Linked DNA regions of Homo sapiens: region 1 is linked to region 2. Evidence: fine-mapped expression QTL. A gene starts in region 2. The other region holds a variant in brackets. All regions are shown on one strand. Distances are between the middles of the regions. Region 1 has its middle 11 kb from the start of PPIAP59. Region 2 holds the start of KLK8 (kallikrein related peptidase 8).

What was found. PIP is the estimated chance that this variant, and not a neighbour inherited with it, causes the effect. A credible set is the group of variants that fine-mapping cannot tell apart.
Region 1: its variant is the best candidate, but not a certain one, in a credible set for the expression of KLK8 in tibial nerve (GTEx, PIP 0.77).

Annotation. Positions count from the first base shown.
Region 1 is chr19:50,937,644-50,940,547 of GRCh38, forward strand. No RefSeq gene overlaps it. Among named protein-coding and RNA genes, the nearest start is that of PPIAP59, 11 kb to the left of the region's middle. RefSeq lists a silencer at 1,395-1,558. The variant C/T (reference allele first, on the strand shown) is at 1,498.
Region 2 is chr19:51,000,325-51,003,228 of GRCh38, forward strand. KLK8 (kallikrein related peptidase 8) reads right to left here and starts at 1,280. Exons shown (of 6, transcript NM_007196.4): 1 at 1,208-1,280; 2 at 774-851; 3 at 100-259. The coding sequence starts at 843. KLK9 (kallikrein related peptidase 9) reads right to left here. Exons shown (of 5, transcript NM_012315.2): 5 at 2,184-2,904. The coding sequence ends at 2,787.

The DNA of each region.
Region 1 (2,904 bases), 63 kb before region 2:
ACTGGTTTTTCTGAGGAGATGCTTAGGTTCCGTGGCTCTGTCTGAATGCTGGTTACAAGGGTGTGTTCTGTTTTGTGAAACTTCACTGCCATTTATGATACTTCTGTGCATGTTTCTTTCTTTCTCCTTTCTTTCTTTCTTTCTTTCTTTCTTTCTTTCTTTCTTTCTTTCTTTCTTTCTTTCTTTTTTTGTTTCTTGAGACAGTCTCATTCTGTCATCTAGGCTGGAGTGCAATGGCGTGATCTTGGCTCACTGCAATCTCCACCTCCCAGGTTCAAGCGATTCTCTTGCCTCAGCCTCCCGAGTAGCTGGGATTACAGGTGCCCACCACCGAGCCCGGCTAATTTTTGTATTTTTAGTAGAGACAGGGTTTCGCCACATTGGCCATGCTGGTTTCGAACTCCTGACCTCAGGTAATCCACCCGCCTCGGCCTCCCAAAGTGCTGGGATTACAGGTGTGAGCCACCATGCCCGGCCCTGTGCATTATCTTTCAATAAAAGTTAATTTAAAATATTGCTGCAAGGGCATCTATGGGGCAGACATCATTGGTTGTTCCTCCCGTTCTTTGATGTCGGAATCCTGATTTCTCTCAAGGAGCAGCTTCTACATGCTTTAGGGGAGGTCCTCCACTCCATCGTGAAAGAATAATCCTGTTTGGTTCAAATCAACCATGTTAACCTCTCCACCCCACTCCCCACCCCACCCCACCAGTCTGTGACTGGTTTAGGAAAGGACATGTGACCCAATTCTGGCCAGTAAGAATAAGATAAAATTCTGCTGGGGTGGTTTCTGGAAAAGCATCATCCTTCTCAAAGACAGACCCACTACGGGTGTTGATCTTAAGGATGATGACCCCCCGCCGAGGAGAACCAAGCGAAACACAGCCTGACGCCCTGTGTCTGGAGCTGCCCTTACCTGGATTTCTTGATATGTGAAATTAAAACTTATTTACTATTGAAGCCAGCATGAATCTTCTCTTGTTCCTCAAAGCAGCTTAACCGGAAACATCATTTTGGAAAATGTGCTCAAGACTGCCCCTTAGCTAGGATTCTGCTCCTATCTAGATTTTTTTAAGATTAAGAAAAAAAAAATTGAGGCCAGATGGCTCACGCCTGTAATCCCAGCACTTTGGGAGGCTGAGGTAGGCAGATCACCTGAGGTCAGGAGTTCGAGACCAGTGTGGCCAACATAGCGAAACCCTGTCTCTACTAAAAATACAAAAATTAGCCAGGCATGGTGGCTCACACCTATAGTCCCAGCTACTCAGGAGGCTGAGGCATGGGGATTGCTTGAACTGGGGAGGTGGAAGTTGCAGTGAGCCGAGAATACGCTACTGCACTCCAGCCTGGGTGACAGAGTGAGACTCTGTCTAAAGAAAAACAAAAACAAAAAACAAACATTGAATTACAACTGTCACCCAGTACTATTTGCCCCTATTTTCACACCACACCACACACCCTGGCAGCCCAGTCTTTCTGGAATGTCCCCTAAAAAGT[C/T]GTGAGGACTTGTAAATGGCTAGGCACAAAGGGGAAGATAAAGGTGACAATTATTGGATCATTTTGATGTATGTGTCCTTCTCTCACACCTTTGACTGTTCATCAGGCAGACACTTCTTATCTCTTCTTCCTTGCTGGTAAGGACTGCACCCGTGACAGAGAAATGTCAGAAACTCACTTTCTCAGCTTCTCTTGAAGCTAGAGTGTCAGCATTGGGACCTTCTCCAATGAGTGGTCATTGAGACCCAAGAACAGATCCAGGGGTGTGGGGGGACTCTGGAAAAGACTTTCTTTCCTAATGAAGAGAGCTCTGCCAACAGAGTCTCTCCTTCCTGCCTTTTGTCATGGTGCGTGAGGATGTGATGTCTGGAGCTGTGGCAGCCATTTTACAGCCACGAGATTACAAGCCTAAAGGAGAAAGCTGACATATTTTCTTCTTCCTGCTAGAACATAAGCTTAAGGAAGGCAGGGGTTTGGTGTCTGTTTTATTAATCAGTCTATCCCAAGTGTCTATAATATTACTTGGCTCTCATAGGTGCTCATGAGTTGAATAAATATATGAATGAATGAATGCAGAGGGCAGTAGAGAAGAAAGATGGGTCCCTAATGATGTAATGTAGGAATCACCAAACCACAGTACTTCCCTCTTTTGGGGCTTCTTATTATGTGAAATAATACACGTCCTTATTGCTTAACCCACTTTGAGTTGGGTATTTTGTTACTGACAAAATTTTCTAGTGTAATTCCTTTTCTAGAGTGTTCAATTTCCAAAGTATTCCCTGGAGTGACTTTCTATAACCACCTGTGAGTATCTTGAGAAATCTTAGAGCTGGATTGGCACGTGGAGATCATTACGTTTCAATCCTCCCATTTTACAGGTAGAGAAACTGAGGTCCAGAAAAAGTACAAATGACCTTTACACAGGTCACTCAGAAAGTGCTGAAGACTAGAATGTCCATGTGTTGATGTGTTGTCCATTTCAATGACTACCACGCCCACAACCTTCTTAGGGGCCCTGCCCTGCCCACTGCTATGGATGAAGGGGTGGCTGGGGGATCCATGTTGCACTCTGTGGGCCCACCTTTCAGACTAGAGATAGAGTCTGCATCTGACCCTAGGACAGCCAACCAGATTTTTTCTCTAGGGGCTATGAACAAAGAAAACCCAGTAACTGGAGCCAGTTATGGGGGAGAGAAGAGATGCTTTGATAGGCAACAGGCAGTCAATGTAATGAGAAAACAGAGGTGGGATGAGAAGAAAGAGACCGTGAAAGACACATACCTAGGGGAGAAGGGATAGAGATCCCACAGGCAGCTGCTTCTGCCCTGACATTTTCCAATTTAAATTAATGGATATTCTTTTGATAACTGATATGGCCTGGCCCTGTGTCCCCACCCAAATCTCATC
Region 2 (2,904 bases):
CCCAGGAGTCCAGTCCTCAGCTCTCTCCTTCCTGAGTCGAAACCCCAGCCCCCTCTTTCCTTAAGCCCCAGCTGACCTCTGCCCCCATCATCCACTCACGGTTTTTTACAGTGGGCAGCTGTAAGGACCCAGTTGCCACCTACAAGGACACCGCCACAGAGTAGTTGCTGGCCCTGGAACAAGGCCGCCTGCCAAGGCTGCGAATGGGGTTGGCACTCATGACCCCCCAGCACCTTGTCCTCCTGTGCCCTGGAGTGTCCTGCAGCAGGAGGGAGAGGGTTGGATCGCCACCCTCTGGGGCAGTGCGAGGGCTGGGAAGGCCACTGTGGGTTCAAATGGACACACGGCAAGTTCTCCGCATACAACTTAGTGAGGAGGTCCAGGCTTCCACACGCTGCCACACGGGGACACTCATTTCAGTCCATGTGTCATCATACAAGAGTCACACACCCAAGAATGCCCCCACATGCTTCCACATGAGTCTACAGGCCCCGAGTACTCCCAGGTGAATCTATGCCCCCAAGCAAGCAGCCCCCAAAGGCTGTAGCTATTCAGACAATTTACAGCATCACGGAACCTACTCCTACCTGCTGCTACCTGTTTCTTGCCTCTGTCCACCCTGAGGAAAGCCCACAGAGGCTCCTGCACCGTATCGCACTCTTCACATCCGTGCACACGCACCCACATAACCCCCGCGGCATTCCCACAGACTCCCCAGCGCCACTGCTGCCTTCAGATCCCTCCCCTCCGGAGGCCTCCGCAACCCTCCTCACCTGCCCAGGCTCCCCCCAGCAAGAGCAGGAACATCCACGTCTTGGCCGCACGAGGTCGGGGGCGTCCCATGGTGAGGTCTGGGAAATGGAGAGGGCGGGGCCGGTAAACAGGAAGGAGGAGCCTGAGCTCCCAGTTCTGGATTTGGGCACTGGGGAGGCAGCCGAGAGTATCTGGGGCTGTTCTGGGCTTCTCTGGAGGAAGGAGGAGGCTGGGGGACTGGATTCCTACATTCCAAGGGAGGGGGGAGTCCTCGATGTCTGGGTCTGAGGGGACAGGGAGCTGGGAGCTGGGACTCCTAAATTAGGGAGAGGAGGAAGCCGGGGTCCAGACTGCTGGATCTCGACAGAGAAGGGCATCTGAGGCTGGGGTCCTGGAATCTGGAGAAGGAGGGTCCGGGGCCTGATGTCTGTATCTGAGTACCTCTGCACCTCACCTTCCAGAATCCAGGGGCGGGGTCACCTACTGATTCGGACCCAGTGGAGGAGGCCCCAGTACTTCAGTTCTCTGCCTGGTACACGATTCTGGAGCCTTTTAACTGGGAATCTCCACCTCCTGCTCCTCCTCCTTCTCCTCCTGCACTAGAGCCTGGGGAGCTTCTGGGAACTGGAACACTGGGTGTGAGTGAGAAGGGGCGGAGGGGATTGAACGTGAAATCTTGAGGGAGGAGGGGCTGGAATCTCAGACTCCTGAGGCTAGGGAGAGGAGGGACTCGGTGCTGAGACTCTACGATCTGAAACATAAAGGGCTGGGGGCCAAGATTTTAGTTCTGAGAGGGGAGGAGGCTGGGGGCCTGGATTCCTGGGTCTGAGGGAGGAGAGGCTGGGGGCCTGGACTCCTAAATCTAAGGGAGGAGGGACTGGGACCTGGGATTTAGGTCTGACCGAGGAGGGGCTGGGGGCCCAGACTCCTGGGTCTGAGGGAGGAGGGGGCTGCTAGGGGCCAGGACTCCTGGGTCTGAGGGAGGAGGGGCTAGGGGCCTGGATTCCTGGGTGTGAGGGAGGAGAGAGCTGGGGGCTGAATTCTAAGTACTTTTAAAAGGAGAAGCTTGGAACCTGATCTTTTGTGGGAGGAGGGGGCTGCTGCCAGTAACCGGGAACCGAAGAAAGGCAGGTCTTCTAGGGTCAGAAACCAGAGGGTGGATCAGGCCCCGCCCGCTGTCCCCTGAGAGGTCCGGGATCTGGGAGGGCAGGTTTGGGAGGCACTGTGACCTGGTTTCCCCTTCCCCTGGAGGCGGCAAGACCAACCCAAGCAGAACCCAGGAGTCTTGCTGCAATAGGGCTGATGGACAGAGACTTTAGGCAAAACTTACTAGGGGTTTAAGGGGGAGTTGCAAGGCGGTACCGGTTCCCTCATCTGCCCTTCACCGCCCACCCGTTTGCTCTCCACTCATCTCACAGCTCAGGCAGAAAGAAGGTGAGGTTTCCCGCGTTTACTGAAAAATCATCCGTTGCATTGGCTCTAAAGGTATCCAGACCCTCCCTCAATTTCCCCCCAGGTCTCCGCCAGGATTCAAACCCAGCACACGCCCAGGACGGGGCCACAAGGGGCTGAGCTCTACACCGCCCGAGCTCCACGTGGGCGGAGCTACTGCGCCCCTGACATCACGAGGGGCGAGATCTCTGGTGAAGGAGGCGGGGCCACAAGGGGTGGAGTCCCGAGGGGAAGTCCCACTGGGCAAAGTTCCGAGGGGCGGAGCTATTTTGTGTAAGTGGTTCCTTGGGGCGGAGCCACAGGCTGTGCTGTTCCAAGAAGGAGGTGATGGCTGTCGGTGACGTCATAGAGACGGGCTCTGAAGGGCGTGTCCCTGCTCCGTTCCGAGGGGGCGCGACTGTGTCTTGCTTGACCTCGTGAGGGGGCGGAGCCTCAGGGGCGGAGTCTTAGTGTCCAGAGGGGAGTCAGGGCAGCTGGAGGTCCAGGGCGGGAACCATTGAGGCTGGGACCCTACGAGAACCCCCTACCCCGTGCCCTTCGGCCTCTCTTGGTCTTCCAAGGTGCCCCCGTGGCGCGCGGGCTCAGTTCTCCATGATTTCTTGGATCCAGTCAAGGTAGTGGCATACGCTGGTGTAGACTGCGGGGCGCCGGGGTCTGGAGCAGGGCTCAGCACCCCCAGACACCACGCCTGCCAAGGTT